2 separate regions of the Homo sapiens genome follow, and region 2 is linked to region 1. A link means that fine-mapping ties the variant in region 1 to the plasma level of a protein whose gene starts in the linked region. Region 1 holds a variant in brackets. A gene starts in the other region. All regions are shown on their forward strands. Region 1 overlaps TRAFD1 (TRAF-type zinc finger domain containing 1). Region 2 holds the start of CXCL9 (C-X-C motif chemokine ligand 9).

What was found. A credible set is the group of variants that fine-mapping cannot tell apart. PIP is the posterior inclusion probability: the model's chance that the variant is causal. The UK Biobank Pharma Proteomics Project read protein levels with antibody pairs (Olink). The fine-mapping took linkage between variants from a reference panel, not from the people measured, so its PIPs are less certain.
Region 2: it holds the start of CXCL9, and the variant in region 1 is the best candidate, but not a certain one, in a credible set for the plasma level of the CXCL9 protein (UK Biobank, PIP 0.54).

What each region holds. Positions count from the first base shown.
Region 1 is chr12:112,149,673-112,164,682 of GRCh38, forward strand. It overlaps TRAFD1 (TRAF-type zinc finger domain containing 1), which reads left to right. Exons shown (of 12, transcript NM_006700.3): 9 at 79-199; 10 at 2,129-2,468; 11 at 2,755-2,827; 12 at 3,063-3,932. The coding sequence ends at 3,119. HECTD4 (HECT domain E3 ubiquitin protein ligase 4) reads right to left here. Exons shown (of 76, transcript NM_001388303.1): 73 at 14,437-14,603; 74 at 13,870-14,065; 75 at 13,370-13,592; 76 at 10,523-12,851. The coding sequence ends at 12,715. It overlaps MIR6861 (microRNA 6861), which reads right to left and starts at 13,649; the gene lies at 13,586-13,649. The variant G/A (reference allele first, on the strand shown) is at 4,210.
Region 2 is chr4:75,996,381-76,011,122 of GRCh38, forward strand. CXCL9 (C-X-C motif chemokine ligand 9) reads right to left here and starts at 11,129. Exons shown (of 4, transcript NM_002416.3): 1 at 11,006-11,129; 2 at 9,768-9,894; 3 at 8,429-8,513; 4 at 4,895-7,319. The coding sequence starts at 11,069. The coding sequence ends at 7,218. It overlaps SDAD1-AS1 (SDAD1 antisense RNA 1), which reads left to right. Exons shown (of 3, transcript NR_125906.1): 2 at 1-364; 3 at 8,693-9,562. RefSeq lists an enhancer at 14,740-14,742.

The DNA of each region.
Region 1 (15,010 bases):
CTGCTGTTCCTCCCATCGCATGCTCTTTTCTGGGAATGACTCAATTCAGAGGTACTAATTCTGGTTTTTCTTGTTTAGGACCAGTGTGACCAACGCCCAGCCACTGCAACCAACCATGTGACAGAGGGGATTCCTAGACTGGATTCCCAGCCTCAAGAGACCTCACCAGAGCTGCCCAGGAGGCGTGTCAGACACCAGGGTATTTATTAGCCAGGACTCAGCCAAGGCCGCAGGTCTACTGCTGGCTCCGGCCTGTTTACCACTTCCCATCCACTGCTCTAATGTGGGGATTACCTGCATCTCAAATTTCCAAACACACTAGGGTCTCATAGGGGACTCCTCTGCAGGTAGTTGTGGTCCCACATTAGACTGAGCTCTCTCAAGTGTGTGATTTTTAGGGTAATGGCTTTGCGGACATCCATGAGATACATGTAGTAGTAAGTGCTTGTAATAAGTTTCTGGTTTCCTATCTGTGCACTTAGTGGATTATTTGTAGATAATTTGCAGACCTTATGGTAGCTACCCTGGGCCCCCATTTCAAGTTGAAATACACTTAGGGTACTCAAACCTATTATTATTATTTAATTTTTTTGTAGAGACAGAGTCTTGCTCTGTCACCCAGGCTGGAGTACAGTGGCACAATCATAGCTTACCACAGCCTCAAACTCCTGGGCTCAAGTGATCCTCTCTCCTCAGCCTCCCAAGTAGCTGGAACTACAGGCACACTCTACTACACCCAACTAATTTTTTTGTTTTTGTAGAGATAGGGTCTTGCTATGTTGCCCAGGGTGATTTCGAACTCTTGGCCTCAAGTAGTCCTCCTGCCTTGGACTCCCAAAGCATTGGGGTTACATGCGTAGGCCACTGTGACCGACCTCAAACTTATTTATTTAATTTATTTTTTTTAGACAGGGTCTCTTTGTCATCCAGGCTGGAGTGCAGTGGCGTGATCACTGCAGTCTCAACCTCTTGAGCTCAAGTGATTCTCCCACTCTTAGCCTCCTGAGTAGCTGGGACTATAGGTAGGCTAGGTGCCCACCAACACACCCAGCTAATTTTTAATTTTTTTTTGTAGAGTTGGGGTTTCGCCACATTGTCCAGGCTGATCTTGAACTCCTGGGCTCAAGTGTTCCTCCCAGCTCGGCCTCCCAAAGTGTTGGGATTACAGGTGTGAGCCATCACACCCAGCCTCAAACTTATTATTATTACTTAAGACCATCATGTTTAGGCAAGTAAACTGTTTTTGAAACCTCACCACTACAAAGCCAATTAGAAATTATTTTTTGGCTGGGCATGGTGACTCACACCTGTAATCCCAGCACTTTGGGAGGCTGAGGTGGGCGGATCACAAGGTTGGGAGTTCAAGACCAGCCTGGCTGACATCATGAAACCCCGTCTCTACTAAAAATACAAAAATTAGCCGGGCGTGGTGGCGGGCGCCAGTAGTCCCAGCTACTTGGGAGGCTGAGGCAGGAGAATCACTTGAATCCAGGAGGCAGAGGCTGCAGTGAGCCAAAATCATGCCATTGCACTCCAGTCTGGGCGACAGAGCAAGACTCCATCTCAAAAAAAAAATTATTTTTCAAGGTTTGCTTGCACACTATTGTTGAATAGTTAGGAGGCTGTCTTTGAGGACTCAGATAATATGTGCAGAATTGATAAAATATCCCCATCTCTGCCCTGGAGATGTGGGTTCCAGCAGCCTTTTGGGGTGAGCAGTTGTCTTTTTTTTTTTTGAGACACAGTCTTGCTCTGTCTTGTCCAGGCTGGAGTGCAGTGGCATGATCTTGGCTCACTGCAGTCTTCACCTCCTGGGTTTAAGTGATTCTCCTGGTCTCAGCCTCCTGAGTAGCTGAGACTATAGCTGTGTGCCACCTCACCTGGCTAATTTTGTATTTTTTTTTTAGTAGAGATGGAATTTCACCATGTTGGCCAGGCTGGTCTCTAACTCTTGACCTCAGGTGATCCCCGCACCTCGGCCTCCCAAAGTGCTGGGTTTACAGGCATGAGCCACCACGCCTGGCTGAGCAGTTGTCTTCTATCTGGAATCTTTTTGTTCCTGCCCTAAACCTGGCACTATAGCCAGAGCAGGCTTTTTCCTAAAGCTGTTACCATTTTCTCTTCTCAGGAGACCTGTCTTCTGGTTACCTGGATGATACTAAGCAGGAAACAGCTAATGGGCCCACCTCCTGTCTGCCTCCCAGCCGACCCATTAACAATATGACAGCTACCTATAACCAGCTATCGAGATCAACATCAGGCCCCAGACCTGGGTGCCAGCCCAGCTCTCCTTGTGTGCCGAAGCTCAGCAACTCAGACAGCCAGGACATCCAGGGGCGGAATCGAGACAGCCAGAATGGGGCCATAGCCCCTGGGCACGTTTCAGTGATTCGCCCTCCTCAAAATCTCTACCCAGAAAACATTGTGCCCTCTTTCTCCCCTGGGCCTTCAGGGAGATACGGAGCTAGGTAAGAATCAGTAGCCCAGGAATGGGGCTTGGGAGTAGCTGAAGCGAACATGGGCAAAGGCCTGGTTACCCTTGCCAGGCCTGGGGTAAGACTGAGGTACTTGCATGGTAAGGGGAGGAGTATGGATTTTCCCTGTATTGTCACCTGACTCCAAAAAAATTATTTTGTGGCCTATGGGTTTTTTGGGGTTTGTCTGCTAGCATAGGACTGCTTCCTGTTCCCTCTGAGTTTGTTGACCTTTGCTCAGGGACACTTCAGGAGCTAGTTTCTAATTGTTTTCTTTCAGTGGTAGGAGTGAAGGTGGCAGGAATTCCCGGGTCACCCCTGCAGCTGCCAACTACCGCAGCAGAACTGCAAAGGTAAGGTGGGCTCCAGCCCATGATGCTCAGTGGGGGACTCAGACATGGTGGGGCTTGTGTGGCTCCTGAAGTTGTAGAAGTTGTTGGGACCAGGCTGGTTGTGGTTCAAAGATTGTTCCTTTGGCTTTTGAGAAGGAGGTTTCTAAGGAAGCGGGACATTTTCGGGGATCCAGGGGAGGAGTAATGCTTTTTCACTTTTTATGTAAAGCTTCGTTTGTGTTGTGTTGTTCACCAGGCAAAGCCTTCCAAGCAACAGGGAGCTGGGGATGCAGAAGAGGAAGAGGAGGAGTAATGGTGTCTCCAGAGACTTTACATCGGTTCCTGTCTTCTGTGCACAGCAGCACTTGCCGCTGTGCAGGCCCACCTCTTTGGCTCTTTGGGTGGGAGAGTTTTTCCAGATTTTAGATTTTTCTAGGTTATGGCCATTTTGTGTCTTTTGAGGTTGTGCTGTGGGGGTTTGGGTTTGAGGGAAGGGAGCAGGGTGGCGGTTGAGGAACGCTTCAGCCTTAGCTGCTACCTTTCGGCAGCAGTGAAATACAAGCTGCAGCCTCGGCTGCCAGGGCTCCCTTTTGACTTATTGTCGCCACTGCCCCTTGGTGCTGTGTGGTCCCAGTGGAAGGAGGGGAAGATTTTGGAAACCTGGTAGCCACCAGTAAGGTGATTCTCTGCCCTGTTGGGGCCTAAATTTGGGGGCTTTTGGGCAACCTCTCCGTGTACTGCGTCTGTCCACACTCGATTGGGCCCCAGGTGTGTATGAGGCGCTCTGGTAAGGTGCTCAGGCCAGTTGCAATGTCTGTCAGTAACGAGGCTTTTGATGTGTTGAGCTGGAGGTGAGTGGACCGGGGGCTGTGTTTTAAGCTGCTTCCTTGGCATTTGGCATCACTGCCTTCTGTTCCCGGGGGAGCATGGATCTTTTGTCCTCACTGCTTTCTAATGGGGAGGGCTGAGGGCTCCCTGTCCCCACAGCAGGTATGTTGGGCTCTGCCCCAGCCCCACACTTGCTCTGAAAACCAAGTGTCAGAGCCCCTTCCCCTTGTTTTTATTTTACTGTTATAATAATTATTAACTTCCTTGTAATAGAAATAAAGTTTGTACTTGGAGTTCAGCTCAGTCTTGTGGTTCCTTCTCCTGTGTGCTTTAGAGACTGCAGGGAGGGCAGGGTAGGCTGGAGTCAGCCCTGGGGTTGGAGGAGGTGAGCAGGGCTGGGCTTTCTCCGGCACTCCAGTAACCCTCGCAGCTCCACCATGAGTCCCTTCTTGGAGTACACAGACATTGAACGTGTAGTGTTTTAAATTGGACTTCTGAGAAAACTGACAGGCTTGCTGCAGCTCCGGTGATGACTGGGGCTAGAAGGGGTGCCTCTGACTGAATAGAGAAAAGCA[G/A]ATTCTTCAAAAGCCTTCATCCTGAGAGGAGTTGAGCCCTAGCAGGATTAGCTGTTACCCCTCAGTGCCTCCGTCTGCATAGGACCACTGAGCACCGTAGGTCATTTTGAGTTCCTTTGTTCTTCCAACAACCTGTTGGGGTGGGAAAGGTGGGAGGAACTGCCCTATTTCATAGATGGAACACTAGACACGGGAACCATGCGGCCAGTTCTTTGCAGAGGCAGGTCTCTGAAAAGAATTATCCTGAGAGAAAAAAGCTTCGTCTGCATGCACTCGCGCACACACACAAACGATACATAGTAGGGTTAGATCTTTTAGTGTATGTCAGTTATATCTCAGTAAAACAAAATCACCTTAGCTCAGTGAGACTTTCATGTGTTGTTGCGTGAAAGAAACTGGAGGGACTCGGACTTGCATGGCTTCTGCTGTCATTGAAATCTCCCTGGAACTTCAAAAAGTTGGGAGGAAGGATCCAGGGCAGCTCTAAGTCCTCTCCCCAGCTGGGCCAGGGAACAGTCATGTTGCCCTTAACTGTCTGTTGGAGTGTGGGGATAGACCTGCCAGAAAGTCAAACTCTCCCCACTCTGCCTTTGGTTGGATTAGACATTGAGTAAAATAGTAGGAGGTTGGTTGGTTTTACACTGTTTTTTTGAGACAAAGTCTTGCTCTGTTGCCCGGGCGGGAGTGCAGCGGTGCGATCTTGGCTCACTGCAACCTCCACCTCCCAGGTTCAAGTGATTCTTCTGCCTCAGCCTCCTGCGTAGCTGGGATTACAGGTGTGCGTCACCATGCCCAGCTAATTTTTGTATTTTTAGTAGAGACCGGGATTCACCATGTTGGTCGGCTGGTCTCAAACTGCTGACCTCGTGATCTGCCCACCTCGGCCTCCCACAGTGCTGGGATTACAGGCGTGAGCCACTGTGACCCGCCAACAATGGGGTTTTCTAAATATACAGTTATGTCATCTGCAAACAGAGACAATATGATTTCCTCTCTTCCTACTTGAATACCCTTTATTTATCTTGCCTGACTGCCCTGACCAGAACTTCCAACACTATGTTGAATAGGAGTGGTGAGAGAGGGCATCCTTGTCTTGTGCCGGTTTTCAAAGGGAATGCTTCCAGTTTTTGCCCATTCAGTATGATATTGGCTGTGGGTTTGTCATAAATAACTCTTATTATTTTGAGATGAGTTCCATCAATACCTAATCTATTGAGAGTTTTTAGCATGAAGGGGTGCTGAATTTTATCAAAGGCCTTTTCTGCATCTATTGAGATAATCATGTGTTTTTTGTCATTGGTCTATTTATATGATGGATTACATTTATTGATTTGAGTATGTTGAACCAGCTTTGCATCCCTGGGATGAAGCCGACTGGTGGATAAGCTTTTTGATGTGCTGCTGGATTCAGTTTGCCAGTATTTTTTTTTTTTTTTTTTTTTTTGAGACAGAGTCTCGCTCTGTTGCCCAGGCTGGAGTGCAGTGGCATGATCTCAGCTCACTGCAAGCTCTGCCTCCCGGGTTCATGCCATTCTCCTGCCTCAGCCTCCCGAGTAGTTGGGACTACAGGCGCACGCCCGGCTAATTTTTTTGTATTTTTAATAGAGCCAGGGTTTCACTGTGTTAGCCAGTATGGTCTCGATCTCCTGACCTTGTGATCCACCCACCTTGGCCTCCCAAAGTGCTGGGATTACAGGCGTGAGCCACCGTGCCCGGCCAGTTTACCAGTATTTTATTGAGGATTTTCACATCGATGTTCATCAGGGGTATTGGCCTGAAATGTTCTTTTTTTGTTGTGTCTCTGTCAGGTTTTGGTATTAGAATGATGCTGGCCTCATAAAATGAGTTAGGGAGGAGTCCCTCTTTTTCTATTATTTGGAATAGTTTCAGAAGGAATGGTACCAGCTCCTCTTTCTACCTTTAGTAGAATTTGACTCTGAATCCATCTGGTCTTGGGTTTTTTTCGGTTGGTAGGCTATTAATTACTGCCTCAATTTCAGAACTTGTTATTGGTCTATTCAAGGATTCGACTTCTTCCTGGTTTAGTCTTGGAAGGGTGTTATGTGTCCAGGAATTTATCAATTTCTTCTAGATTTTCTAGTTTATTTGCATAGAGATGTTTATAGTATTCTCTGATGGTAGTTTGTATTTCTGTGGGATCAGTGGTAATATCCCCTTTATCATTTTTTATTGTGTCTATTTGATTTTTCTCTCTTCTCTATTAGTCTGGCTAGTGGTGTATTTTGTTAATCTTTTCACAAAATGAGGTCCTGGATTCATTGATTTTTTGAAGGGGTTTTCCTGTCTCTATCTCCTTCAGTTTTGCCTGATCTTAGTTCTTTCTTGTCTTCTGCTAGCTTTTGAATTTGTTTGCTTTTGCTTCTCTAGTTCTTTTCGTGATGTTAGGGTGTTGATTTTAGATCTTTCCTGCTTTCTCCTGTGGGCATGTAGTGTTATAAATTTCCCTCTCAACACTGCTTTAGCTGTGTCCCAGAGATTCTAGTACGTTGTGTCTTTGTTCTCATTGGTTTCAAAGAACTTATGTATTTCTGCCTTAATTTCATTATTTACCCAGTAGTCATTCAAGAGCAGGTTGTTCAGTTTCCATGTAGTTGTGCAGTTTTTGAGTGAGTTTCTTAAACCTGAGTTCTAATTTGATTGCACTGTGGTCTGAGAGACTACTTGTTATAATTTCCATTCTTTTGCATTTGCAGAGGAGTGTTTTACTTCCAATTATGTGGTCAATTTTAGAATAAATGTGATGTGGTGCTGAGAAGAATGTATATTCTGTTGATTTGGGGTGGAGAGTTCTGTAGATGTCTATTAGGTCCACATGGTCCAGAGCTGAGTTCAAGTCCTGAATATCCTTGCTAATTTTCTGTCTCATTGATCTAACATGGACAGTGGGATGTTAAAGTCTCCCACTATTATTGTGTGGGAGTCTAAGCCTCTTTGTAGGCCTCTAAGAACTTACTTTATGAGTCTGGGTGCTCCTGTATTGGGTGCATATATATTTAGGATAGTGAGCTCTTCTTGTTGCATTGATCCCTTTACTATTATGTAATGCCCTTGTCTTTTTTGATCTTTGCTGGTTTAAAGTCTGTTGTATCAGAGACTAGGATTGCAACCCCTGCTTTTTTTTGCATTCCATTTGCTTCATAAACATTCTTCTATCTCTTTATTTTGAGCCTATGTGTGTCTTTGCACGTGAGGTGTGTCTTTGCATGTGAGATGGGTCTCCTGAATACAGCACACTGATAGGTCTTGACTCTATCCAATTTGCCAGTCTGTGTCTTTTAATTTGGGCATTTAGCCCATTTACTTTTAAGGTTAATATTGTTATGTGTGAATTTGATCCTGTCATTATGATGCTAGCTGGTTGTTTTGCCTGTTAGTTGATGCAGTTTTTTCCTAGTGTCGATGGTCTTTACAATTTGGTATGTTTTTGCAGTGGTTGGTCCTGGTTTTTCCTTTCCATATTTAGTGCCTCCTTTAGGAGATCTTGTAAGGCAGGCCTGGTGGTGACAACATCTCTCAGCATTTGCTTGTGTGTAAAGGATTTTATTTCTCCTTTGCTTATGAAGCTTAGTTTGGCTGGATATGGAATTCTGGGTTGAAAATTCTTTTCTTTAAGAATGTTGAATATTGGCCTCCACTGTCTTCTGGCTTGTAGGGTTTCTGCAGAGAGATCTGCTGTTAGTCTGATGGGCTTCCCTTTGTGGGTAACCCGCCCTTTCTGTCTGGCTGCCCTTAACATTTTTTCCTTCATTTCAACCTTGGTGAATGTGATGATTATGTGTCTTGGCGTTCCTCTTCTTGAGGAGTATCTTTGTGGTGGTCTCTGTATTTCCTGAATTTGAATGTTGGCCTGTCTTGCTAGGTTGGGGAAGTTCTCCTGGATAATATCCTGAAGAGTGTTTTCCAACTTGGTTCCATTCTCCCTGTCACTTTCAGGTACACCAATCAAATGTAGGTTTGGTCTTTTCACATAGTCCCATATTTCTTGGAGGCTTTGTTCATTCCTTTTCATTCTTTTTTCTCTAATCTTGTCTTCTCACTTTATTTCATTAAGTTGATCTTCAATCTCTGATATCCTTTCTTCCGCTTGATCGATTCAGCTGTTGATAGTTGTGTATGGTTCACGAAGTTCTCATGCTGTGTTTTTCATCTCCATCAGGTCATTTATGTTCTTCTCTAAACTGGTTATTCTAGTTAGCAATTCCTGTAACCTTCTTTCAAGGTTCTTAGCGTCTTTGCCCTGGGTTAGAACATGCTCCTTTAGCTTGGAGGGGTTTGTTATTACCCACCTTCTGAAGCCTACTTCTGTCAATTCATCAAACTCATTCTCCATCCAGTTTTGTTCTCTTGCTGGGGAGGAGCTGTGATCCTTTGGAGGAGAAGTGTTTTGGTTTTTGGAATTTTCAGCCTTTTGGCGCTGGTTTTTCCTTATCTTCGGTGATTTATCTACCTTTGGTCCTTGATGTTGGTGACCTTTGGATGGGGTTTCTGTGTGGATGTTGTTTTTGTTGATGTTGATGCTATTCCTTTCTGTTTGTTAAGTTTTTCTTCTAACAGGCCCCTCTGCTGCAGGTCTGCTGGGGTTTGCTGGAGGTCCGCTCCAGACCAGTATTACCAGCAGAGGCTGCAGAATAGCAAAGATTGCTGCCTGTTCCTTCCTCTGGAAGTTTTGTCCCAGAGGGGCACCCACGCGATGCCAGCCAGAGTTATCCTGTATAAGGTGTCTGTCGGTCCCTGCTGGGAGGTGTTTCCCAGTCAGGAGGCGTGGGGCTCAGGGACCCACTTGAGGAGGCAGTCTGTCCGTTAGCAGAGCTCAAGTGCTGTGCTGGGAGATCTGCTGCTCTCTTCAGAGCTGGCAGGCAGGGAGTTTAAGTCTGCTGAAGCTGTGCCCACAGCTGCCCCTTCCCCCAGGTGCTCTGTCCCAGGGAGATAGGAATTTTATCTATCAGCCCTTGACAGGGCTGGTGCCTTTCTTTCAGAGATGCCCTGCCCAGAGAGGAGTCTAAATAGGCAGTCTGGCTACAGCGACTTTGCCGAGCTGTGGTGGGCTCCACCCAGTTCGAACTTCCTGGCAGCTTTGTTTACACTGTGAGGGGAAAACCCACCTACTGAAGCCTCAGTAATGGCAGGCGCCTCTCCCCACACCAAGCTCGAACATCCCAGGTTGACTTCAGACTGCTGTGCTGGCAGTGAGAATTTCAAGCCAGTGGATCTTAGCTTGCTGGGCTCCATGGGGGTGGGATCTGCTGAACTAGACCACTTGGCTCCCTGGCTTCAGCCCACTTTCCTGGGGAGTGAACTGTTCTGTCTTGCTGGCATTCCAGGTGCCACTGGGGTATGAAAAAACTCCTGCAGCTAGGTCGGTGTCTGCCCATACGGCCACCCAGTTTTGTGCTTGAAACTCAGAGCCCTGGTGGCGTAGGCACTGGAGGAAATCTCTTGGTCTGCAGGTTGTGAAGACTGTGGGAAAAGCATAGTATCTGGGCCGGAGTGCACCGTTCTTCCCGGCACAGTCCCTCATGGCTTCCCTTGGCTAGGGGAGGGAGTTTGCTGACCCCTTGTGCTTCCTGGGTGAGGCCATGCCCCACCCTGCTTCAGATCACCCTCTGTAGGCTACACCCACTGTCTAACCAGTCCCATTGAGATGAGCCAGATACCTCAGTTAGAAATGCAGAAATCACCTGCCTTCTGTGTTGGTCTCGCTGGGAGCTGCAGACCAGAGCTGTTCCTATTCGGCCATCTTGCCACCCTTCCAAAGTTAGTGTTTATGAAGTACAAGAAAGGTGGAGTTGAGAGCATGAGAATAAAGCGGCTCTGGGTGAGGACTACCATGGAACAGTAGGAGGGGACAAGCAGGTCACAGAGAACTGAGATTATCCGGAGTATAGCCAACCTGGGCTCCCTGGCCAGGGAGGCAGCTGTGCAAGGACCTGAGTGTTGATCATGGACAGCAAGACTCAGCAAGTCCTCACCTCTTTCCTGTATGTGCCTTCTGCACAAGGTAGGTCTACATCCACTGCCTGCTCCTGAAGGAGGAGCTGTGTCTAAGAGGGGCCCAGACTCTGCCACGATAACAATCCGCTTGAGGAAAATGCCCACACCAGGCCCAAGCGCATAGACTAGCTGCCAGGACAAAAAGTGGGCAGGGGATGTAGGGTTAGGTTTAACTTTGATTTTGGATTCCCCTGCCTTCGTAATTTCTACATGGAATGCACAGACTGAAGAGTCAGGTTTGGGGAAGGGTAGTTTAAAAACCTCATGGAGTAAGAATCACGTCAAATGCCAAGAGACCATAATAATTAGAAACACTTTAATTCCTAGCCACTTGGCAGCACTTAAATATCAGAGCCATCCAAGCATGCCAGCCTTTGAACTTGCTCAGCAAGAGTAGATGATCACACAACTCTTAAGGTAAATCAAAATTAGATGAAGGTTATTTATTGGTGTGACTTTTTTCCTTTAGTGAGCTTCCTTTACACAGCATGGTGTAAATAGCATCAGATTGAATGAAAAGTTTGTTAAATGCAACCATAAATAATTATAATAAATATACATCAAGTAACTTTACAGCACACATTTTTTAGGGCCAAGGTTTGGATCTGTCTGGACCTCAATGTGCTCTCGGAGAAGCAGCCACGTTAGCAGCAGATACCTTACAGCTTGTCATCTACTCAAGTGATGGCCAACAGAAGCTTCTGAACTCCTCCTGGGGAGGTAGCTGACAAGTCCATTCAAGGGATGAGGACTAAAGAGAACCAAGAATTTAAAGATGTAGGGAGGAAAAACCACTTCTAATAAATCGAAAGGCTCTTTCATTATGCAGAAATGAAAATAAAAGGATCCTTATTGTCAGGAATACATCCTGGCTGTGACCCCCCACACTCAAAGGAGCTGTGGCCGCTGGGGAGGCAGCGGGCTGACCATCTTCTTTCAAAGCAGGGGAACTGCTTGCGGGCACTCACCTCCAGAGTTGACTTGCATCCAATACAACTGATGCAGCTGTCATGATTAACCCTAGGTCGATTTCATCCTTAGGTCAGGGGATCCTTTCTATAATGGTCCTTGATGCATTTCCTAAGAGTTACAGGGAGGAGATGGATGCTAACGGCTCTATCTCTAGAATTCACAATCTTTCCAGCAGGCCAGGGCACATCTTCTTTCTTGGACCAGCATCCACACTCCAAAACCTTCTAGACAGCACTCACTCAAAACTTCCAATATTCACAATATTATACAATAAATACAGCGATGTGATTCTGTGAGACCTGGCAAGGCCCAAAGTGACAGTGTCCAACAAGATGGCCTGTGCTGCTCATGAACAAAGTACCACTGGACAAAGACCTATTTGGGGCAAAGATGCAGTGGGTGAGCCTGGAGGCAGCTCAGCCCTGGCATACACACTTACATGGGGTGATGGGGAGTGCTGGGTGGGGCTGGCCAGAGGGGCAGAAGGACCCCCCTGGAGTCTCCATCTGGACTTGAGTGTCTGGGTCACTAAAGCAGACCCCAAATTGAGCAGAGCACCTCAGTCCACTCTTTTGAAAATGGGTGTGGCCCTTTCCCTTGTCCTACGTCACTGCAGGGAGGAAGGGCCATTTCTGAGCATTTTGTGCTCCTTTTTTGTGGGGTAGGCTTGAATCATGTGCTTTCCTCTCAACCAGAGTCTCGGAGGAGGCCCCCACCTGAGCATTGTCCCCCATCTCTGGGTGTCTTCTCACCCCCTGCGGCTGGGATGCACCCAGCTAGGCTCTGTGAACTAAGGTCGGGATGAACCCTTAAGTCTCCTGCTCCCGAGGAGGCCTCAGATGAAAACTGTCAGACCAGGGCCCAAAGAGACAGACGGCAGATAGGGAGGTATGGGAGGGGCAGGGGAACCACTGTGGGCTTTTCCTCAGAAAAACCAAGACCGGGAGCAAGTTCTAAAGCAGGAAGATGAACACATAAAGCTCCCTGTGTGTCTCACGTGTTTGGGCAATTGGCCCAGCCACCTCTATGTGGAGGGAGGCCTGCTGGGGCTGCCTCTGGAGCAACTCCAGCTCGAGGCTGGAGGGCAGGGCTGGCCACAGGCTTGTCTGTGGAGGCGCTCTGCTGAAAGCACGAGCGCTCTGTGTGGCCGAGGTCATTGTACCCCCGGCTTCCTGCTGGGTGGTTCTGTGATGGGGAACCAGCTGGGGCCTTATGGCATTAGAATCTGGTGGCCATGAGGGACAATGTCCAAGAAGATCAAATTAGACACAAACTGTCTGGGAACTAAACTATCCTACAAATAGACCACAAACAGGCAGCAAAAGAACCAACCCATCACGAAACGTACAAAGACAAAAGGTTAAGTCTTCCAGGAGGCCCTGGAATGTGGACGAAAGTTTGGAAAAGCAAAATGTTGCCAACTCCTCACGCAGGGCCCTGGAGGGACGGGCCGCAGTGGTGGCTTCCCAAGCCAGCAGAGTGGGTGCCTCAGTGACAGCCTAATTCTGGGGCTCCCTCCCATCAGCCACTGAGGGGGTCTTCACGGTAGTGAATGGCACAACGAAGTTTCTCCAGCATGATTTCCAGAGAGGAGTACTGGGGAAGCTTGATCATGAACATGCAGGTCTCCACGCGGATGTAGCGAGAGTCTGGGGAACCTACAAGAAACCGAGCCAGCATCAGAGGGTTGGGCCCACATCTGTGAGGCTCCCAGGGAAGCTGGGCTGGCCTCTGCTTCCAGGTTTGCCTCCTTGGGTAGCCCCAAGCCAATCCTGGGGCCCAGCAGGAGGGGGATGAGGGCCTGGGAACCTGCGAGATGTTCTTGGAGGGAAAAGGGGAGAGAGCTGCTGGACAGCGCATGTGCCAAACTGCTGATGGGTTTGTCTGCCCAGCAAATTGTTTCTTTTTTTTTTTTTTTAACCATTTTTCTGCATTTAAAAGTTAGAAGATTTGAAGCATTCTGGATTTTCAGCTTCTTTTAAGATATGAGAAAGTATCTAACAGCAGGCCTGTATGGCTGGTTCCTGCCGGGCCCTAATCCTCAATGATGTCTGAGTTTTGGCACGTGGGGCTCCTGTTCATTGTTCTCCCTTCACATGGGGCCTGGCAGCCCCAGTTCCAAACAGAGAAAGGCTAGTGTGTCCCTACTTGGGACATGGCCAGGGGAGGGCGGTACCTGCTGTGCCATCTGGGGGGGCGATCTTCATGGGGTACGGGGGCACATGGGCAGTGTCGGGACCCCCATCTTTGCAGGGGCAGGTGAACGGGATGCGCTCCTGGTTGCAGGCAAACTTGATGAACTTGCACAGCTCCTCCTGGGTGAACATCTCCAGGGCCCCCCAGAAGAACTCGATGTGCTGGTCCGTCTCCATCAGCCCCACTTGGTACATGGTGTGGGCCTGGGGAGGAGAGGTCCAGGTGTCAGGAGCCCTGGAGCCCCACCTACCCAGTGCCTCCCCAGCCCTGGGGTCTGCAGGCCAGGCCCAATCCTGGGGCAGGGTGCAACGTGTGGGCTGTGAGCACAGGGAGATGACAATGATGACAATGATACAGGTCTGTGGCAAGGACAGAGCTGAGACAGGCCACTGCCGATGCCTGCTGCTGGAGTTGAGGGTGACAGGGAGGCACGCCTGGGGCTCACCACCTCCCCGCCCAGCCTGGCCCTGGGATGTCTACCTTGAGGAACTCGAGGTTGATGTAGGGGAGGCCGCAGGTGCGCAGCTCCATCTCCAGTGGGCTGAGCATGGTCAGCAGCTGCAGGGGGATGATGGAGCCCAGGCCGGCCCGCACGGCCGTCACGCACTCCACATTCTGCAGCTCCCGCAGCCGCAGGCTCCGGATGGCTGCCGCGTAGATGTCCTTGTTCTCCCACCTGCCCGGGTGAGGAGCACAGGTGAGGGAGAACACCGCCGAAGAGGCTGGGTCTGGGGGCCACACCCACTCAGCTGGAGGTCCCGGATCCTCTCTTGGGAGAGGCCTGGGGCCCAGCCGCCCTGGTCATCCCAGTCCTTTCCTGCCTCTGGTGCCGCCGCCTCAGAGCTGCTGTTTTCTTAGTAAACCCCTTCTGCTGAGGACCCTCTTTCTTGGCACCCACCATCCTGCCTCATCTCCCTCTCCTGGTGAAATCCACCTGTCACCTGACCTAGGTCCTCGTGTCATTGCCCAGGAACAGATGCTGCTGTCATACCCTGGCTGGCTGGCCGGGCCAGCCCCTGCCAGCCCCTGACACGCGCACACACTCACGCCACAAGGATGTGCCGGCCCCGGCTGCACAGCTCCACCTCCTCGCCCGTCATGGTCAGGTAGGTGAACCTGCAGCAGGGCTTGTTGGGGCTGTCAGGGCTCTCCGTGGCCAGGTGCTGGGAGGCGATCTCAGCGCACAGGGCCTCCAGCTCGGTCTCATCATTGATCTGGAGGGTGGAGGCAGAGCGAGGCTCATTATGAGGCCATGGGAGGTGGAACCCTGATCCCCAGGTGGCTGGGTAAACCCCAAGCGCAGCTGGTGGGGTCTACCCTCGGCCGTGTAGATGAGCATGTGACACAGCTTTCGCCAATCAGAACCTGCCATCAGTTCAGGGCCGGGCGTGTGACCCAGGCCAGGCTAAAGAGACCCACATTCCAGGCCTCTTCCCACGTCTGTTTGGAGGCAGCGATCCTCTCTCACTGGCATGGACCGACTATGATGGGAAACCCTTTACCACTGGAGGCCACCTCTGCCCGTGCGCTGGGAGAGACTGCTTGAGGCTAATTATGCTTGCTTTTTTTTTTTTTTGAGACGGAGTTTTGCTCTTGTTGCCCAGGCTGGAGTGCAATGGCG
Region 2 (14,742 bases), not on the chromosome of region 1:
CTTTTATTGTACTTTCTTCCTCCTCTCTCTCTTTTACAGCTTTGTTATGAGTTTTCCCCACAAGCCCATGTATTTCTTTGCTCCTGTGGGCAGCGAAAACTTTTGGCCTTGCCTCTGGACAAATCTATCAGGGCTGATAGATTTTGTCATTGGTACAGGCCCTCGCTTCTCATCCACCTCCACTGCCTCTCTTTTTGCTGATCCAAGGTCCCCAACATTCTCCCTAGCTGGCAGAGATCATCCCTGTTTCCCCATTATTCAGAGAAATTTAGCTTAGTTTTGCTTTAACTTCCATACCATCAAAAGTCCTAGGCCCATCTCTCCCTAATCAAAGGCTCCATACAAAAGAGACATCTGCCCTGAGGTAAATTCTGAGGCTTTCAGTATTGCAGAAGTGATTGCTGGCATTTCTTTTTCTAAGCAACACATTTTTTCCCTCTCTGTTATATAGTTTATTTTGACATGTATCCTCTTACCTAATAGATTGTGATTTTTAGTTCTTCATTCCAGAGGAAATGCAGGTTGTCTACTCCAATGGTTAAAGAAAGCTGGTGGTAGATGGCTGTACCTACTTGGTCCTATACTCTACCAGAAGGCAGAGGCCAAGATTTAGTTTTCTGGAGATGGAGATACCAGCAAGTCCTTCCTTCTTTTTTTCTTTGAGCAAAACAAATTCTTTATTAAAACAGTTGACTTGAAACAGTATATTATATCTAAAGGAAGAGTTTTTTTTTAATCTGTATAGCAGACTTTTAAAGAAAGCAACTAGTTATGTATAACTTGACACCTTTCCCTCTAATCTTTTGTCAGTTTGCCCCAGTTCATAATCTTATTAATGGACTTAGATTAGACTGTTCCTTTGTGATTTATTCATCTCCTTAAAATGTAGGGTCCAAAGTTGAAAGTTCCCTCCTGAGAACTTTAAACCAATGTGGGTATCAAAATGCCTCAAGTGACTTCTTGGCTTGTGATGACTTGGGAGCTAATTCCACTCCCTATTAAGAAGTGTTGCCTGTTTTTCTTTCTCATTTAATTTCATCTCCTGTCTATATAGGCCAAAAACGAGACAGTACCTAAAGTATCTGTGATTGTAGTCTCTCTTTATCTTCCTTTCCAATAAGAAGGCAACTTTCCAGTTTCCCCGTAAGGATAAAACAACTACAGATAGCTTCCTCCCAGTTAACTGACCTAGAGATCGCTAGCATTTATTTATTTATTTATTTATTTAATTTATTTTGAGACAGAGTCTCACTCTGTTGCCCAGGCTGGAGAGCAGTGGCACGATCTCAGCTCACTGCAAACTCCGCCTCCTGGGTTCAAACGATTCTTGTGCCTCAGCCTCTCAAGTAGTGGAGATTACTGGCGTGTGCCACCACGCCCAGCTAATTTTTGTATTTTGAGTAGAGACAGGGTTTCACTATGTTGGCCAGGCTGGTCTCAAACTCCTGACCCCAAGTGATCCAGCCACCTTGGCTGGGATTACAGGCGTGAGCCATGGTACCTGGCCACTAGCATTTAAATTCATAAGAATAGTTTACAGATTAAATACGTCTGAGTCTTTTATCCATTGCTCTAATGTATAAAATTTGTTCAGGCACAGACTGCTTTCTAGTATAGCAAAATAATTGAAGATTTTAATCATAGAACAATCCTTACTAGTTAAAGTCATTTTATGACAGGGCATGGAGGTGGATATCAGTGTGGCCAGGAGGATTCTGGGATGGAGTCATGGGAAAAGTGGGACTTGAATCATGTGTAGGTGGGAGTCAGATGAGTTGGAAAGTAGGACAGGGCGAATAAAAGAATGAGCAATGCGAGGGCAGAAATGAGCATGAGATGAACATGACAAGAGTAGTTGAAATTGATTTGGAAAAGGCCTAAAATGAAAATTTAGGGTGAAGTATATGTCAATCAACTAAAAAATACATATTAGGAGCTTCCTAAGTGCCAGGCACTGCTCTAGGCATGCAGTAGTGGGGAAGACAAAGTTTCCATGGTCGAGAAACCTAAATTTGTACATGTGGTAGGGTAGGAGGGAAGATATAAGTACACACATTATTTTAAAAGGTAATTGTAGATTGTGATGGTTTGATCATTATATCTAATCATGATAAAAGAAAATGAAACAGACTCTAGCCACCGGATTTTTAAAATTGTGTACCCTTCTAGTTAAAATTAGAACAGCCATCCCATCTATGTATGTTTTGTTCTCTTGTTAGTTTATATTAGCATTATTAATATGATCTTCCACAGGAATTTCTTAGCAGGAGTCTTTTAGAGCCACTTGCCCATTTTGTGAAGGTTGGCTTAGTGAGCACTCTGTCTTGTAATCCTTAAATCCCCTTAACTACATGCACATAAATGGAAACTCATGTTGCAATCTGCAGAAGGTGAATGACTGAGTGAGGGCACATGCCAGCCCCTCAGTTGTGGCGATGTCACCTTTTCCTCAGGAATTTCTTAGCAGGAGTCTTTTAGAGCCACTTGCCCATTTTGTGAAGGTTGGCTTAGTGAGCACTCTGTCTTGTAATCCTTAAATCCCCTTAACTACATGCACATAAATGGAAACTCATGTTGCAATCTGCAGAAGGTGAATGACTGAGTGAGGGCACATGCCAGCCCCTCAGTTGTGGCGATGTCACCTTTTCCTCAGGAAATTAGCACATGACAAATGATTTACAGTCAATTTTCAGTTTTTTCTTGTTTTTTAGACAAAAATGTAAGTTCTAAATATTTTCATCAACTCCATAAGGTACACACACTGGAACCACTACCACTACCAGAGAGAGAGTCTGGGGAAAGAGTGGTTATTTTACTAAGGGTCATAAGAGAAGGGGACTCTGTGAAGTGACATTTAAACTGAGACTTAAGTGATGAGGCAAGAACCGCCATGCAAAGAAGTGTGTGTAGGCCCAGGTGTTTCAGGGAAGCAGAGCCACTATGAGTATTATGAGGATAAAAATTTACTATAGGATTCAGATCTCACAGATGAGGAAGGATCTCAGGGAGTGAACATCTAGAAGGGAGAGTCAGGGGATCAGAGGAAGAATCAGTGACTGGTCCATCAGAAGCACTGGGACAGTTGGACAAATAGAGCTTGTGTGAAAAATCCAAGAAGTTAAGCCCGTTCAGCGCCAAATTGGGGCTGCTAGGGTCTATGGGAGCTGTTGCTTCTGTGTAACTACCGCCTCTGTGGGTCCACTGCCAAATATCTGGGTGGGGGGCCTGGGACCATCACTGATCATGAGGCCAGCAGTCCTGAGCATAAGCTGAACATGGAGGAAAAGAGCAAGGACAAGCTGGGATCCACTGGCTACCAGTGTGTCTGTCAATATGTCTAATCAAGATTAAGGGTCACTCCTTCACTTTTGATTTCCAAATCTCACATGAGTTCTTCTTTGGCTAACTATAACCTGGAACCACACAGGGAAGGAGATTCTGGGAAATGTAGTTGTAAGACTAACCAAGTTGATATAGTACAACCCAGAACCACAGGGAACAAAAACCCCAGAAGGCAATGAATTCAGTGTGCTCAAGAGACATACAGAAAAAAGGTGATGCTGAGGCTCAACAAAGGAGGGGAGGGTAGAGGGAGCATGATTAGATAAGCAGGCAGATCCCAGCTTATGTTAGGCCAGCTCATGGTATGTTTTGACTTAATGCTAAGCTGCAGGATTTTAAGCAAGGTGGCAGCATTCTGTAAGTTATTTTTTAAAAAGATTATTCTAGTTGTCATGGAAGTTAGGGAAGCAAGAGAAATGTTGAGAAGAAGAGCCAACAGGGAAAACAGCAGGCTACTGAGGTAGCTCAGGAAAGAGACAATGATGGCCTGGACTAGGATTATAAAATACAGATATTGAGAACTGGTCAGGAAGCCTTTTAGTCTCATTTCTCCAACATGTTTTTTCAGTGCTGGAAACATTTCTCTCTCTATGAGATGTAGGATCCATCTGCTGCAAGGAAGATGCAGCAGAGGTAAGTGGTTAGGGAGGATCTGGGACAAACATTGAGGACTTTCTCTGCACCAAGACCTATGCTGAACCTGCTCCTCACAACAATCTGGAATGAGGAAAATGATGCACTGGGAGGTTAAATATTATACTTTAACCAGGGTCACACAGTTAATAAGTAGTGGGCCCCTGATTCTAACCAGGATATCTCAGAATCCAGGATCTTAGCTCCTTCCAGAGTCCTGTTGCCTCTCAGGTGAAGGCCCTTGTGAGAATTCATGTCTACCATTAGCAGCTGTTATCTGCCCGAATATTACACCTGTCTGGCCTCTAAAGTGTACATCAAGTGTACAGGCTGATGCTCTTCGTTCCACTCTCAACCTTCTTAGAGACTCCACGCTGCGTAATGCCTCCAGCCCAAGTTTCCTGGACCCTTAAATAATTCATTCAGTGTTTAGGTCTCCATCATAACTACTTGAGGCTTTACAATATTTAAACATATACAATTTTAGGGATAGAAAAGAAGACGTGTTGGCTTCCTGGGGACACACCTCATTGGAATAGTGTTACTCTTGAGGATTAGGAAATACATTGAATTCTACATAATGCTTTTTTTTTTTTTTTTTTGACAGAGTCTCACTCTGTCACCCAGGCTGGAGTGCAGTGGCATGATCTTGCCTCACTGCAACCTCCACCTCCCGAGTTCAAGTGATTCTCCTGCCTCAGCCTCCCAAGTAACTGGGACTATAGGCGCATGCCACCATGCCCAGCTAATTTTTGTAATTTTAATAGAGATGGGCTCTCACCATATTGGCCAGGCTGGTCTCAAATCCCTGACCTCAAGTGATCCGCCCACTTCGGCCTCCCAAAGTGCTGGGATTATAGGCGTGAGCCACTGCGCCCAGCCCCACATAACTCTTTTAAATCAGTGTTGTTGTAAGGCAGTGTTGTCATATTTTCCATAGGTTTTTTTTCCTGTTCCCGATCGACCCTTTAAAGAGCTTTCATGTGTTATCTCAACTAGTGTTACACTTTATTTGAGAGAAAGCTAAAAAGTAAATAAGGACATATAAGATTTACTATTAAACATTCAACAGTTGAAGGGTACATTCAAGAGAAAAAAAATCAAGATCTGTTTTCTGATTAATGGTCTATTTATTGATACCATTCTATTTTAACAAAGAAAATATTTCAAATTACAAGGTATACAAGTCAATACTGTTTTGAAGTGAAAAATTATTTGCTTTGAGAGTGTATGCATGTATGTATATATATGATAAATGATTATAACGTGTGTGTCAGTGACAATATGTAGTCTTTGGTTGTTAGTTATATACTGTCTACCTGTGAGATGCAAGGTAAGTGGGTCACAGACTCTCAAATTTATGAAACACTTAGATTTTTCAGGGAAGTTACATGAAGGAACTAGGGAGTTTCATGATTAGATAAGACGTTCGGGTGGGATCTCCACCGGACAGCACTCTAAATCATCAGCAGTGTGAGCAGTGATTCAATTTGGGAAAGTGAGTATAGGTTTAAATTCTGGCCACAGACAACCTCTCCTACACAATTCACTGAACCTCCCCTGGAAGGAGGTTTCCACATCCTGCAGAGGCTAACTGGGCACCAATCATGCTTCCACTAACCGACTTGGCTGCTTCCTCTAGCGCTTAGTACTTCACCGTTCCCTTTCTTCATGGGAGATGGTGTGGTAATTGATAATCACAATACAAACTCTGAAACAAGTAAACGGACAATAAAACTCATATTTGCCTAAAATGAGTTTCGATAAGGATCTCGGTGGCTATCTTGTTAGATCTTAGAAAGCTGAGGCTTATTGAGAAAGCCCTTTTCCTTCGGGAAAAGGAATTTTTGTATGGTTGGGAAAAGGTTGGTCACTGGCTGATCTATAAAGTCCTTTTCATTGTAAGATTATATGATTTTCGGTAAACTGTATATTTTTTAAAAACAGTCCAGAATATCCGCAAGTGTTTTACCACGTGCTTCTTATTGTTGGAGAAGCTGAGCAAACATCCTGTCATAAAAAGACAAGGATGTTGCATCATCCCTGGTCCCTGTAGTGAGTGTCCTGAAGATAATAAGTAAGAGGTTACCAGAGGCTAGCCAACATGGAGTAGCCAGGAAAGAGCCAGCACCTGCTCTGAGACAATGGTCTGGTTGCCATCCTGCCCATAACAACATCAATTAAAAAATTATTAAAACCTAGTTCCACAGTATTATTAGGCACTGTGGAAGAAACAGGGAAATATACTGTGGCTCTTGCCCTCAAGGAGCTGACAATCTGGTTGGAGAGATAGGATAAACACCCAAGAATTAGTTAACCATTGAGTGTTCACCCATGTGGTACTGAACCAAGTGAAACAGGAGTTTTAAGATAATTTGTGTGTCCAAAAAGGTTTATTTAAGAGGCAGGACTTGAACTAAGCTGGACTGAGTGAGGATGAATTGGGAGAAGAAAGCACTTCTGTGGGGTGTTGGGGACAAGATGAGAAAGGAGTTGACTCAGATAAATCAGAGCATATGACAGGTGCACTGGAGAGAAGAAAGGCACTGCATTGTGGTAGGATGGAGAAGAGCTGACTTGAATGAAGCAAAGGGGAACAAAAAGAAATAAAGTGGTCAGCCTGAGCGGGCAAGATGGAATCACATGGCTTCCAAAGCCAGAAAGGAGGCTCTGAAAGCCACACACTGGTGATCTCCAGTGGTGATACCCAATAACAATCAGCATGAATCTCTCAGACACATTGTGTGTGAGGCCTGTAGGCTGATTCAAATACAGAGGTTGATGGCCACAGCAGCTTGGTGAGGTCCAGCTCAATTTCAAACTGCTTGGCTCACCAGCATGCTAACAGGCTTAGGACTTGCTGACATGTGCCTCAGATACTCTCTGGAGGCTGCAGTACGTGGAAGCCTAGGGCTGCTCTTCCAGGCAGCTGTTGTGAGTGGGATGTGGTTGGGTGAACATCTGTGTAGACATGGGTATTGCTAAAATCATGGCCTTAAGCATGATGAAATTCAACTGGTGGGTGGTAGAAGAACAAAGACAATCATAGCCTTTAACAATTCTTAACGTTTGGATTCTTAAAATCAACTTTCTAACTTTAGTTACAATTTCAGAGTAATGTTTTAAATTTTCTAGTCAAATTAATAAGCCTTTGTATTATATGCCATCCTCCTTTGGAATGATAGCGGTATAATTAAAATAGAACATTTTTAACACAGAATACTTATTGGTGAAGTGGTCTCTTATGTAGTCTTCTTTTGACGAGAACGTTGAGATTTTCGAACTTTCAGAACTTTCTTTTTTTGATGTTTTTTCCCATTCTTTTGCTTTTTCTTTTGGCTGACCTGTGAGAAGAAGGGGAAAAAGGGCAATGTTTCTGAATCTTACCATTTTTACTTCCTTTTATTTGGACTCTCCTGATCATTGTCTCATACCCACATAGTCTCAAAACCACATTAAAGTCACTTCACTCTCAGAGGGGCTCCCTTAGATTCTCTCTACTTTGCTCACTTTGAGGAGGAGGCAACAGCCTTCAAACTGGCTGTCTTTTGTCTATTCTTCTGGCTTATTACATTCTCCTGGCAACCTTGCTTACCACTCACCTGCCCCAGCTACAACCCTCTGAAGGTGGCACTATTATCATCCACGTTTTACATAGGAGGAGGCTGAGTTCTGGAGAGGGTGACTTTCCCAAATCTAGACAGCTAGTATGTGGCAGAACCTCCAGTCTGTGAGACTCCAGAACCCAATCTCCCACCCACATATTCTGTGGCTCTCTTCAAATCCAACTCCTTAGTATGCCATGCAGGATTCCTCCCGCTTTGTCCTGATCTACTTTTCTGCCTCAGTCCCTTCACTCTCTTCACACAAACTCCAGCCACATTAATGGAGGCTCCCTGAACACAGCAGGTTCTCTCATGATTCTACTCTTCTGCTCATGCTGTCCTTACCTTCCTGGCAAATTATTTATCCTTCAAGACCCAAATCAAATATCACCTGACATGAGAAATCTTCCTTAACACTTTCTCCTGCCCCATTCCCCCAGCAAAGTTAAGTACTCCCTCCTCTATGTCGTCAAGATTCTTGTGCATACTTTTATATTTCTCACATTGTACCATAATTATTAGCATATGCACTACAACAGGAAGGGACTATACCTTATTATCTTTGTATCCTGTGTCTACCATTCAATTCATTACATATTTATTGTATTAAATAAGGACAAGCTCTGTACCCCCAAGGAACACACATTCTTCCAGTGGGAGACAGAGAGGGGATACTATATGTAGGAACCTAATTTTGTCCTAGGAACAAAATAGAAGCACCATAATATGAATGAAAAATGTATTCTTAAAAGTTATGTATTCTTATAGTGTTAATGAAAAAGCAGATTCTTTGTCTTCTAAAGTTAATTTCTAAAAGAAAGAAAATTTTGATCTTCCTTTTCACCAACCTGTTTCTCCCACTTTTTAATCAGTTCCTTCACATCTGCTGAATCTGGGTTTAGACATGTTTGAACTCCATTCTTCAGTGTAGCACTGCCAAAGAAATAGCAATGAGATAGTTTTTTCTCATTAATAATTTAAATGCTTCTTCTCAGAAATAATGAAAATCAGTATGAATTGTGCTGAATTTTCTAATGAAACTACTTAAAATTATTTCCTAGGACAAGATGAGTCACTGGTTGAATTTTTTTTTTTTTCTTTTTTTGAGACAGAATTTCGCTCTGTTGCCAGGCTGGAGTACAGTGGTGCGATCTCAGCTTGCTGCAACTTCCAACTCCTGGATTCAAGCGATTCTCCTGCCTCAGCCTCCCGAATAGCTGGGACTACAGGCATGCGCCACCACGCCCAGCTAATTTTTGTATTTTTAGTAGAGACAGGGTTTTACCACATTGGCCAGGATGGTCTCAATCTCTTGACCTCATGATCTGCCCACCTCAGCCTCCCAAAGTGCTGGGATTACAGGTGTGAGCCACTGCACCCGGCCCTGGTTAAATTTTAAAAATTACTTACAGTAGACTGTCTGGAAATAATTTAAATGTTCCTTTAATTTTTCTGTATAGTCTGAGAATAAGAGTAGTCAAGGATGACTTATAAAGACAAAATATGCACACATCCTTCAACCTAGCAATCCTAATCTCTAGAAAGGAAAGAATTACAGACACAATACTGCCACAGTAAGTTTTATTTCAGCAGTAAAAATTTGGAAATAATCTATATTTCCAACAATAATCCTGGTCATATAAATTATGGTTTATCCATATGATGAAATACAGTTTGGCCATTAAAAATGACATTAAGTAAAAATGACATTATTAGAGATTTACTGACACGAGAAAATGTTCATGATATAGTGTTAATGAAAAAGCAGATTACAAAACAGTGTATAGTATATGATTTAATTTTTGTGCTTATATACGTGTATGTAAAAACATATCTATGTTATGTGCACACGAAGCAAGTAAGGAAGATTTAGAAAACTGTATACTAAGGGGTTAACAGTATTTGTCACTCAAGGGTAGAATTATGCGTGATTTTTATTTTCTTCTATTGTGTTACCTGCATTAAACATTTTGTACAATAAACATGTGTCATTCTTGGGGCCTAATCTACCAGAAATTCCTTGCATTTTTAAGGAGAAGAAAAGAAAGGAGCTGCCCAAATTTATGGAGGGGGTAACCATCTGATTTTTAAGTGTTTGTATGGGCAAGCACTCCAAGGGTAAAACTCATGCTAAATTTAATGTTCTTGCCAATATGGTGCATGCATGTTAGCTGGGTTGTTACTTACATGATTTCAATTTTCTCGCAGGAAGGGCTTGGGGCAAATTGTTTAAGGTCTTTCAAGGATTGTAGGTGGATAGTCCCTTGGTTGGTGCTGATGCAGGAACAGCGACCCTTTCTCACTACTGGGGTTCCTGAGGGAAAGAAAAAGATAGAACACATCAGTATAGGCCAATGTTTCAGTTTAGGTGATCTATCAAAATGATACACTTGACTGAGTCATGATTATTGCTATCATTTACCGAGTGCCTAAAAATAATCACCACAAACCTTTGAAGGAGGTATCATCTCTATTTTATACATAAGGAAACTAAGGTTCAGAAAGATTAAGAACAAAGTCATACAGCTTTTAGGGAGCAGGGGCAGGGTTTTAGCCCAGATCTCTCTGAGTCCAAAGGCGTTGCTCTTAACTACCACACCGTAAGTCCGTGGGAGAAAAAGAGACTTTCACAATATTTAATAAATGCCTATCACAAGACAAACAGATAACTAATTCATGTATGCTATGCTGATCACAGTTTCTTAAGCAACTCCTAAACCATCTATTATTTATTATCTGACCTTAAGGAATGGAACTGGTGTTGGTGTTGAATAGAAAGCACTCCTTTGTAACCAATCACCACTTTCATCCTCATCCTCTCTCCTCCCCACTGCCTTGCTTTTCAATAGTGTTTTAAATTTTTGAAAACCCCTTAAAATACATTATCTTAATTCTTAAATTCATATATTTACTTGGTACTTATTGTACCATATGCCATACATTGTGTAGCAGTCAGAAAAGGTATAACTACAAAGTTCTATTTTACAGATGATGAGGAAACTGAGGTCTAGAAAGATTAAGTAATTTGTCCAAGGTAACAAAGATAGTTAGTAAATAGATTAGGGACAAATTCTCTGATTATTGGTTGGATCCTTAATTGGTTAGCCACAGATATACTTAGCAAAAAACAGTATCAGGGAGAAGAAAATAATTTAGGAGATAGAGTTCTCATTATTACCCAGTTCAATGAACATTTATTGAACACTTACTAGGAATTCATACACCTAGACTACAAAGACTTGTGTTTGACTTGGCAGATCGAAGTTATGAACTTTGGATAACTGGTCATGTCACTGAGAAGCTTTTATGACTGACCAAATATTACTCTTCAATGCAGGCAGAACATTCACCTTTATCTGGCTAATCAAGATTCTTTTACAGTGAATCACTTCTCTTACTTTACAACCTAACTCAGAACCCCTTACCTTGCACTCCAATCAGAACCAGCAAGATGATGCCCAAGAGGAAAAGAACACCACTTTTCTTCATAGTGATAGAATGGAGTTCCAAGTCACTCCTGTATTGGATTTTGAGCCTGAGAAATTCTTTAGAGAACACATTTTGGGGATCATATTTATTTAGGATATTCATTTCTCTCCTAAACTCTGATTGGCTAGTATCTTTAGCTGAGCTAACTAAATTGACCACAAACTTGATTGTGCTGGGGGAAACCCTAGTCTCAGATCCAAGGGAATTTCTGCATGTTTTTATTTCCATTTCACATAAATGGGTGGTTTATAGTAAGGGATGTGAAACTAGCAACACTGATAGCCTTTGGCACATTCACAGTTGCTCACCTGTGTGAAGAATAGGTTATATAATGAATATACTAATGTTATACAACAAAGGTTGGAGATGTGGTTTCCAGATGGGAAATATTAAAGTCCAGATAAATAATATACTTTTCAAATTCCCTTACTATTTATGGCATATTCTTCTGTATAATAGATGGCTACATTGATATTTTCTTATATTGCCCACTTAACAACTTAAAGCACCTTAATTTCCTCTGGGACCAGGTCATTTTCTACTAGTGGTAAGCTCATTCTGTATCATTCCTGCTACAGTATTATTTTTTAAACTAATAAATTGGTTAGAATAAGGGGTCAGTTGCATGTAAGAGACCCAAATTAACAGTGGCTAAGAAATGCAATAAAAATGAAGATAAATAGCTGGGACCTAATTAAAGAGCTTTTGCACAGCAAAAGGAACAGTCAGCAGAGTAAACAGACAACCCACAGAGTGGGAGAAAATCTTCACAATCTATATACCTGACAAAGGACTAATATCCAGAATCTAGAATGAATTCAAACAAATCATTAAGTAAAAAACAAACAATCCCATTAAAAAGTGGGCTAAGGACATCAATATACAATTCTCAAAAGAAGATACACGAATAGCCAACAAACATATGAAAAAATGCTCATCACTAATGATCAGGGAAATGCAAATCAAAACCACGGTGTGATACCACCTTACACCTGCAAGAATGGCCATAATCAAAAAATCAAAAAACAGCAGATGTTGGTGTGGACTTGGTGATCAGGGAACACTTCTACACTGCTGGTGGGAATGTAAACTAGCACAGCCGCTATGGAAAACAGTGTGGAGATTCCTTAAAGAACTAAAAAGCAGAATTACCATTTTATCCAGCAATCCCACTACTGGGTATCTACCCAGAGGAAAAGAAGTCATTATTTGAAAAATGTACTTGCACATGCATGTTTATAGCAGCACAATTCACAATTGCAAAATCATGGAACCAACCCAAATGCCCATCAATCAATGAGTGAATAAAGAAACTGTGGTTTATATATACACAATCGAATACTACTCAGTCACAAAAAGGAATGAATTAACGGCATTAGCAGTGACCTGGATGAGATTGGAGACTATTATTCTAAGTGAAGTAACTCAGGAATGGAAAACCAATCATCATCTGTTCTCACTGGTATGTGGGAGCTAAGCTATGAGGACACAAAGGCATAAGAATGATACAATGGAGTTTGGGGACTTGTGGAGAAGAGTGGGAGCGGGGTGAGGGATAAAAGACTACAAATAGGGTGCAGTGTATACTGCTTGGGTGATGGGTGAACCGAAATCTCACAAATCACCACTAAAGAACTTATTCGTGTAACCAAATACCACCTGTACCCCAATAACTTATGGAAAAATAAAAAAAAAAAAAACAACAACAGAAAACAGTGGCTAAGATAGAAGCTTATTTCTCCCTGAGAGATGTAGGTGGATTAGCACTTGGATAGTGGCTCTTTCCCATGAGGTCTTCCAGGCTTCTCCTTTCTTGTGTTGTCACCATCTCTAGATTGCTGCCCTCATGCACATGGCCAAAGGTGGCTTGCCACCATGTCCAATTTCCAGGTATAGGATGATGAGAAGGCAGAAAAAGGGCATGTCCCTCCTTTTTAGACATCCTAGAAGTTGCACCCATCATTTTCTATCACCTCCCATGGAGGCAGGCCTTAATCACATGGCTACACCTAGTTGTAGGGGAAGTTAAGAAACGTCATCTTTATTTTGGTTGACTAGCTAAAGATTGGAGATTTCCTTATTGTAAAACAATGTTTCTCAACGTTTTTTTTCATTATGGACTCAGCACTGCATGCGTGTGTGCGCGCATGTGCACCCACACACACACACACACCCCCCCACATTTCACCTTGCTCTGAGAAAAAATAAAATGAACTGAAAACTAAATTTAATTTCTTCCTGAAGAGAGAAATCAAATGCTAAGAAATAAGATTTTGTTGGGTAGGGTTGAACCTTGGTAGGCCACTAGTCATTGCAATATCTAAAATTTTTTAGCTCTCCAAGAACCAATATTTTCCCCCTTGGGAGCAATTTACCTCTCTTCCCATTGACAATGCATGCTGTAGAATTGGAGGAAAATGGATATTAGCATTTCATGTCACATGGTGCACATTTTTTGACTGACTTCTATACAGATTATTAATACTTAAATGGAATTACAGAATTCTTTTTGAATAAAACATGTGGTGACCATTGATACAGCTTATCCATTTGCTCATGCTTAATTTTGGTACTGACTGTGGCAATGCATAGAGTGCAAATAGGTTCACGTTCCTGCTTTACCACTTAATGACTGTGTGCAAAATACTTAATTTTTGTGAGCTTCATCTCCCTCATTTAAGAAAATTATTAGACCTCACAGGGTGTTAAAATTAATGCCAAGGACGGATTGTCAACTGCAAAGCCTCACAGGGCTAGTGGCTGTTCTTTCCAGCAAAGAAAGGAGGATGGAAATTTCTTAGGATAAGAACTAAGGCCCAGCACTGTTGGTGCTACCCACCTTTCTAGCCTCTTCTTACACAGCTCTCTGCTCCCATCACTTTGTCTTCTCTCAGTTTTCTTTTCTTTTCTCCTTCTCCTTCCCCTCCCCTCTTCTTTTCTTTTCTTTTCTTTCTTTTTGAGACCGTTTTTTTTTTTTGCCCAGGCTAGAGTGCAATGGTGCAATCTCAGCTCACGGCAACTTTCGTCTCCCAGGCTCAAGCGATTCTCCTGCCTCAGCCTCCCAAGTAGCTGGGATTACAGGCATCCACCACCATGCCAGGCTAATTTCTGTATTTTTAGTAGAGACCGGGTTTCACCACGTTGCCCAGGCCGGTCTCGAACTCCTGACCTCAAGTGATCTGCCCGCCCTCCCAAAGTGCTGCAATTGCAGGCGTGAGCCACTGCACCCGGCCCTTCTCTCAGTTTTCAAAGGGGACAATGCTCCTTCCCATGGCACTGTTTTTGCTCATGCCATTCTTCTGCCTGGAGCGACTGTGCATGCTCCTCATTCCTGCCCTCCTGCATAGTAGTTACTCACCATAGTTACCCAGGCCAGCATCATTTCCCTGGGAAGACTTTCCTGAACCCCAGAGGGGCTCTCACCGCACACTTGCAGAGGCCTTGCTGAGCCCGTGTCCGCAGCAACGCTACGTTTCCCTGCAACCCTATGGTTAACATTTCCTTCCACCACTAGGCAAGGAAGGCCTGCGACGCTCCCCGTCTGAGCATGGTGCTAAACACAGTGCCTAGCACCCAGTAAGCGCACACGCATGAGGGAAGGAGCTGGGAGCTGGCTCGGCAGGTCTGGAAGTTGGATAGGGTCTGTAAAGGGCTGCCTGGCTCCAGGGGCCTC